2 linked regions of the Homo sapiens genome follow. The protein of the gene in region 1 interacts with the protein of each later gene in a pairwise test. Each region holds a gene or a part of one and is shown on either strand. Other genes may lie near its edges. The genes, in order: SORBS1 and SYNJ1.

The links.
Region 2: the proteins of SORBS1 (region 1) and SYNJ1 interact in a two-hybrid assay, tested with the Homo sapiens proteins (one large-scale study listed by BioGRID and IntAct).

Annotation. Positions count from the first base shown.
Region 1 is NC_000010.11:95,551,061-95,554,877, reverse strand, and holds part of SORBS1 (sorbin and SH3 domain-containing protein 1), read left to right. Parts: intron 1-3,817. UniProt on the Homo sapiens protein: Plays a role in tyrosine phosphorylation of CBL by linking CBL to the insulin receptor. Required for insulin-stimulated glucose transport. Involved in formation of actin stress fibers and focal adhesions.
Region 2 is NC_000021.9:32,644,198-32,648,014, reverse strand, and holds part of SYNJ1 (synaptojanin-1), read left to right. Parts: intron 1-1,412; coding exon 1,413-1,622; intron 1,623-2,225; coding exon 2,226-2,369; intron 2,370-3,008; coding exon 3,009-3,047; intron 3,048-3,817. UniProt on the Homo sapiens protein: Phosphatase that acts on various phosphoinositides, including phosphatidylinositol 4-phosphate, phosphatidylinositol (4,5)-bisphosphate and phosphatidylinositol (3,4,5)-trisphosphate. Has a role in clathrin-mediated endocytosis.

The sequences.
Region 1 (3,817 bases):
AAAAAGAGATGCCTTTCTTCTTGTGTTCAGCTTTCTACTTCTGTTGATATTGCTGGTTCCCTTGTCTGTTTCCTCCCCCATATTGTGAGTTCTGGGAATAGAGTGAGTCTGTGTTTCTTCTCTTTTTAAATTAAATTTTAATTTGTATAAAACTTTCGCGTGTGTGTGTGTGTGTGTGTGTGTGTACACAGAGAGTTTCTTTTTTGTTTGTTTTGAGACAGAGTCTCCCTCTGTTGCTTAGGCTGGAGTGCAGTGGCATGATCTCAGCTCACTGCAACCTCTACCTCCCGGGTTCAAGCGATTCTCCTGCCTCAGCCTCCCTAGTATCTGGGACTACAGGAGACCACCACCCCCCCAGCTAATTTTTTTATTATTAGTAGAGACAGGGTTTCACAGTGTTGGCCAGGCTGGTCTCGAACTCCTGACCTCAAGTGATCTGCCTGTCTTGGCCTCCCTAAGTGCTGGGATTACAGGCCTGAGCCACTGTGCACCCCCACCCCGCACAGAGTTTTGAAAGACAAATAGGCTGGGTGTGGTGGCTCACGCCTGTAATCCCAGCACTTTGGGAGGCTGAGGTGGGCGGATCACCTGAGGTCAGGAGTTTGAGACCAGCCTGGCCAACATGGCAAAATCCCATCTCTACTAAAAAAATACAAAAATTAGCCAGTCACGGTGGCGGGCGCCTGTAATCCCAGTTAATCTGGAGGCTGAGGCAGGAGAATCACTTGAACCAGGGAGGCGGAAGTTGCAGCGAGCTGAGATTGTGCCACTGCACTCCAGCCTGGGCAACAGAGCCAGACTCCCTCTCAAAAAAAAAAAAAAAAAAAAGTCAATACTACTAGAAAAATATAAAGGCTGCCTGGGCGCAGTGGCTCATTCCTGTAATCGTAGCAGTTTGGGAGGCTGAGGCCGGCGGATCACTTAAGGCCAGGAGTTCAAGATCAGCCTGGCCAACATAGTAAAACCTTATCTCTGCAAAAAATACAAAGAATTAGCCAGGCATGGCAGTTAGGATATAGACATCCTTGAGGGGCTGCTGTTACTCTGTTTACAACAGTTACTTCTAATGCACTGAGCTGTTTCTCCTGATATTACTATCATATTTATTGTTACCTGCTTACAATGCTGTTTTCTGATTGTCCATTTTAGATGTTATTTTTATTTTTCCTTATTTTTCTTTTTGTAGAGACAGGGTCTTGCTATGTTGAGACCCTGCTTGAGGCCAGGGTGGACTTTAACTCCTGGCCTGAAGCACTCCTCCTACCTGGGCCTCCTAAAGTTCTGGGATTACAGGTGTGAGTCACCATGCCCAGCTTAGAGGTTACTTTTAGATGTTATGTCTTGATGTCTTACTATGGATTAGATCCTCTCCTCTGCCCCCCAATACTTCCCTTTCTCCCTATCCTCTCATTATAGATATATCACAGTTTTTGATTACATTGATATTTGGTGCTTACATTATTTTGGCTGTGTAAATAGTGTTCATGACAGAGCCATATAGTATACTATAATATTTTCTTTCTTGTACATTTTTTGAGTTAATAATTATCTTACATTTTCTATTTACTTAGTTTCTATGTACTTATTGCTAATTCTCAAAGTATTTGACAGCATCTTAAGACATTTGTTTTATAACATGTGTTCCTATTTATTTATTTATTTATTGAGATAGGGCCTTGCTCTGTCCACCAGGCTAGAGTGCAGAGGTGCGATTGTAGCTCATTGCAGCCTTGACCTCCTGGGCTCAAGTGATCCTCCTGCCTCAGCCTCCTGAGTAGCTAGGACTACAGGCACCACCATGTCCAGCTAATTTTTAAAGTTTTTTGGTAGAGATGGGGTTTCACTACATTGCCTAGGCTGGTCTCTAACTCCTGCCCTCAAACAATCCTCCCTCCTCAACTTCTCAAAGTGCTAGGATTACAGGCATGAGCCACCGTGCCTGCGCTTGTTCCTTTTTATTTTATTACTGTTTTTTTTTTTTTACGCCCGCTTGGAGACTTCCCTCCTATAGGCCTCCATTCTGTCTCCTTTGTTCTTGCCCATTGACCTCTAGGCCTGTGGCATGACTCATCCTGGGAATTCCCTCACCTTATCCTGGGTGGGATCCTGTTTCCTTTGTTGATTTATTCTTCCACAAGTTTCTGAGAGAGGGTCTGTGGAAGTTGATCACTTTAAGCTTACAGGTCTGAAAATGTTCATATTCTACATTCATATTCGATTGGTGATTTGATTCATCTAGAATTTGAAGTCGAAAGCCATTTCCCTTAGAATTTTGAAGCCATCATTCCACTGTCATCTAGGTTCTAATATTGGTATCAAAATTCGGATACCATTCTGATTCTTGATCATTTATGGATAACCTGATTTCTCACTGAAAGTTTTTGGGATCTTCTCTCTTTTCCTGTATTTGAAATCTCCTTGCTTTAAAAATGATTGGCCTGGGTCTTTGGTGTGGGCCTTTTTTTTTTTTTTTTTTGAGATGGAGTCTCACTCTGTTGCCCAGGCTGGAGTGCAGTGGTGCAATCTCGGCTCACTGCAACCTCCGCCTCCCGGGTTCAAGCGATTCTCGTGCCTTAGCCTCCCAAGTATCTGGGATTACAGGCGCATGCCACCACGCCCAGCTAATTTTTGCATTGTTAGTAGAGATGGGGGTTTCACCACGTTGGCCAGGCTGGTCTCAAATTCCAGACCTCAGGTGATCCACCCGCCACGGGCTCCCAAAATGCTGGGATTACGGGTGTGAGCCACTGCGTCCAGCCGGTGTGTGCCTTTTTGATCTGAAGATTGACGTCTTTCAGTTTGGGGAAATTTTCTTAATTAGATATATTTTAATAATTTCATTTTCTCCATTTTCTGTGTTTTGTCTTTGGCATGCCTATTAGCTGAATGTTGGACTTCCTGGAGCAAGTTTATAATTTTAAAACATTTTATTTCCTTTTTTCATTTTATTATATTTTTGTCTTTCAGAGAGCTATCTTCAGCTTTATCTTCAACTCTTTTCCATTTTTAACTGTGCTTTCATGTGTTTACGTGGAACATATTTGCATGTTTTACTTTGTAAGAGCTCCCTAGTTCTCTGAATACTTGCTTTTCTTTTTTAGATGACATTCTATTCTTGTTTCATGGGTACAGTAAATTCCTTTATATTAAGGGTTTTGTTTGTTTGTTTTTGTTTTTTTTATGGTTTTCTGCTGTTCCCTGCTGTCCCTTGGAAGATGTTGTTTCTTCCAAGTCCCTTTTTCCATTTGTTTTGGTTACTGTATCTTCCATTGCAGCTATCCTTCCATGCATGCTGATCCTTGACTGTCTATGTATATTTTAAGAATGGACACCGAAATGCTGATTGGGCATCAGTGCCACAAGGAAGGGAGTCGTTAACTTCATTGTAGAGTGACCCAGCAGAGAGCCCCCTTTTTCTCTACTGGAGCAGCCTAGATATCAGCGCCGGTAGATCTTTTTCCTGGGGCTTTCCTGGATAGGGCTTTCTTGGAGAGGATTTTACCTGGGTGTGGGGTAGGGTGGGGTGGGGTGGTAAACAGCCTGGCCTTCCTGCATTCTGGGAGCCTCCATGGGGAAAGGGGCTAGGTATTAGTCTGTTTGATATGCAGACTTTCACTCAATCCCTGGGTCTTTTGAAAGTTGCCCCCACCTGCCATCCCTCTCTCCCATCTCTCTACCTCCCTCAGCTGTGTCCCTCCCTTGGCTGTATCTCTGGTGTAAGTTACCTGATCAGTGGATCTCCACCTTCTGCTAGCTGAGGCAGGGAAATCACCAGGCTGAGCAGACTGCAAGAGGGACCCTGGGTCTGACTGCTCTT
Region 2 (3,817 bases), on another chromosome or scaffold:
CATCTTAAGACTTCCCTCTTCTCTGTGAAGTGTTGAAGTGATCTGCAGGAGTGGGACAGCTCACAGTTTCAGGAGGGTTAAGGAGTTTTGCAGTAAAGCTCCTGAAGAGCAAAGGGTGAGGGGAAGAGCAAACCAGCAAATCATGGAATTGCCAGGCACTTTAGGCCAGAAGAGACTGAAAAGCATAATTTCAAATGTGACTGCAGTTGTCAGGACTGGGTGGTTTTCTTTAGCAGAGGCAGTCAGCAATCCAAGTGTTATCACAGAAAGATTAAACAGGGGAATCAGTGCAGGGATGGGGTTATGTCAAGCACGTGCAATGGAAGAAGAGTGAAGTAGGGTAATGTTTGAGATGAAGAACCATAGAATCTGAAGGTAGGTACAGAAGAAAGCAGAATCAGATGGAGGTAAAAGTTAGAGGGATCAAACCCTGGCTTCTGAAGAAATCAAAAGAGAAGGAGTAGCCAAGGGAGAGAACTGAAAAGCTGGGAGGCCAAAGTCAGAGTGAAGCTTTTGAGTTTATTATTTCAGAAGAGTGCAGTTCTGAGGGGTGAGGGTTAGGAGTGAAGGCGAATGTCCATAAGGATAGGACCAAGGCATTTTGCTATTGAACGAGTTGTCCACATGGACTTTGATGCCACGCAGAAAGATGGTGCGGGACCTGACTTACAGTCTTGCTCTCTGCTTAGTCCTCAGTGAGTGGGTTCAGGAAATGGAAGAATGGACGTTGGAGATGACTGTAGCAAGTGGGGGTAGAGGATGTTACATAAATTCCTGATGGCATAGCCTCAGAGCAGTAGGACTTTTTGTTCAGGGTTGGAAGACTAATGTTCTGGAATGGCAGTTAGGTTGCAAGGGTTACCTTGTGCCCACTTTCCTACCCAGAAGTAAGTGGAGATGAGGAGACCCTGGGGGAGAACCAGTGTTTACTTAATTAAAGCAAAGCGGGTCTTTGTGGGGTGAGGGTTGCAGGGAGGAGCCTTCTGGGGGAAGACTGTGTGGCTCCTGAGAGCTTGTTGACTCTGAGGCTGGACCTGGGTTAGGCAAGGGAGTGGGGCAGTTCCACAGAGCACAGTGGACAGGTTTGGAAGGAGAGCAGGAAACTTGAGTTGGCTTGCACTGGAGAAGCTGCTCTGGGGCATATTGAAAGCCCATTGGGTCACCCCAGCTCCAAGTGGTTGGTCACCTGACATCTTATTGCTCAGAGACAATAGATACCTTTACATCTTCTGAAACAAGCATTTCTACTAATTGTGGTTTTATACATGCCTTCATGCTTAATCCATGTGTGTTTGCAATGACATAATGTTCATATTTGTTTTGTGTATTTTAACTTTTTAAAACCTAAGGTGAAAAAAATCTCTGAGCAAGTTAAAATGGAGTTATCTCTGATCAAGCCTGCTTTTCCTTAGGTGATGTTGATGACTATAGTGCTGAAGTGGAGGAACTTCTTCCTCAGCATCTCCAGCCATCTTCAAGTTCCGGCCTTGGTACTTCCCCCAGCTCTTCACCCCGAACTAGTCCCTGCCAGTCACCTACAATATCAGAGGGTCCTGTACCTTCCCTTCCCATCAGACCAAGCCGAGCACCGTCAAGAACTCCTGGGCCTCCCAGTGCACAGAGTATGCATTTTATTTGAAAGTTTTGTATGGCTTCCTGTGGCCAATGTGCTTGATGTTGGAGAGTCATCGTTTAAGTTTCATACCTAGGTGATAAAGTGCACCCTGTTTTCTCCGGTACAGAATAGGAAAACTTGTAGATGATAAGCTCTCAATGGAAAGGAAACTTGCTATAACTGTCACTAGATGACAATTGTTCTTAATCTTTTTTCTATGTGGTTAGGTTTGTCTATGTCTTATAACTGATGATTTTCTATGGTATGAACCCGTTAACTATTTGAGCTTTTTCTTCTCTCTACTGGCCAGACTACAAAATGGCTTAACTCAAACAATACTTTGTGCATATCAATAGGGCCACTTAGTAAATTAGCTTTCAGCACCTGAGGCCTAGGTAAGAAGTCAGCACAGAGGTAGCATTATTGCTGCCATGGTACCAAAGGGCAGTTTAATAGTAGACTGCTTTTGTTATTCATACTGAAAATACATGCCCTTTCTTTACACCATTGTGCACATTTTATAGAACATTACACATATATATGAAGGACTGTTCCCTTCTGTCAACAGCTACTTAGAAGCTGATCTTCTTACCTCCTGTGCGCTTTTTAGGTTCTCCTATTGACGCGCAGCCAGCAACGCCGCTGCCGCAGAAAGACCCCGCCCAGCCCTTGGAGCCCAAGCGGCCGCCGCCGCCCCGCCCGGTCGCCCCTCCCACACGCCCGGCTCCCCCACAGAGACCTCCTCCGCCTTCAGGTGACAACCTTTTATTTCCATTTCTGCTAGATGTAAAATTCTTCACTCTATTTTAAAATGTTTTGCATGTTTTCCAATCTCTAGCTTCTGGATTTTACAGTTTTTTCTATCATTATTGCTATTTCTTAGCTTTTCTCTAAAGAACATGGTAGGCGCAACAGACAAGGTAGAGTGTTTGCAGAGTAGATTCCTCTAAGGTGTTTTCACAGCTGCCTTTAGCTGCCTTCTCACCAGCCAGCCAGAGAGGTTTATTTTGTTTTTGCTAATTTGATCTAGTTAGGCATGTAAACTGTTCTTAGGTAAAATTAGGTTTAATTTTTTTCAAAATCCTCATTTCTGGATGATTTATAAGCATAAAATAATTAAAATGTACTAATTTCTGTAAAAGTATAATAAAACTGGAGAGCATACGTATTAATGTACAATTGTATGTATTTGTTTAATGTTCTTTTAAATTAAATATAGTGCTGTTACTTCAATTATAAGCATATGCATTGAATAATAGTTTTTGTAGTACGTAGATAATATGTAATTCCTGCATGATACTTGATGTCATGGATACTATAGCAATCTTTGACATTTCACTTCTGTATTTAATGTCATTTCCTTTCTGCTGCCTATTTTCTTATGAACTATAAGGGGCTAGGAGTCCTGCACCCACTAGAAAGGAATTTGGAGGTAACCATTTACATTTGTTAGCATGTGTGAATCGTGGTTCATTAATGTTTTACACCTGAAAGACATTTTAGATTTGTTTGATAAAAGTCAAAATGAATGACATTCTAGTTTAAAACTAATCCACAAATAAAACTAATAAAGGCTTTCATTTCCCAGGTAGGCTGGGATTGTTCATCAGGCCTAATTTTTTTTTTAATAAATGTGGTCGATTCATTTACAAAGATTTAATACCCAAAAGTTATATTAATTTTAAAAGTCATTCAGGTACAGTAAATACAGAACATTTCCCAAGTATCTGATTAGTGATACATTTATTTTCTAGTGGAAAAGCTTTTGGATTAGCAAAGAACTGTATGATTTTCTTTTCCTTTCTTCATAAGGAAATTTTTATTCACAAAGGGTCACTTTTTGTTTGAAGTATAGTTTATTTGGTTTACATGAAAACTCACAGAGCTCAGTTGGAGTTATACATTTGACAAGTTTATTTAATCTAAATCTCAAGAAAAGATGAGATGAGTTTTCACAATTCCTCAGAAGAACTTTTACAAATCCAGTGTTACTAAGGCTCACTGTGCATGTGTAGCCTGGTCTGTTTCTATTGTAGCTTGCCTAGTGACATGGCTGAGCAATTCAGGTCTTACTACAGACTGACTTTGCCTGTGTGTAGATCTTAATGACTGCGTGTGATAAGAATAGCTAAATTATTTCAGCATTACAGCTTCTGCCGAATACAGCTAAGTGATCATTTCTCCATTGACCTACAGAAAACA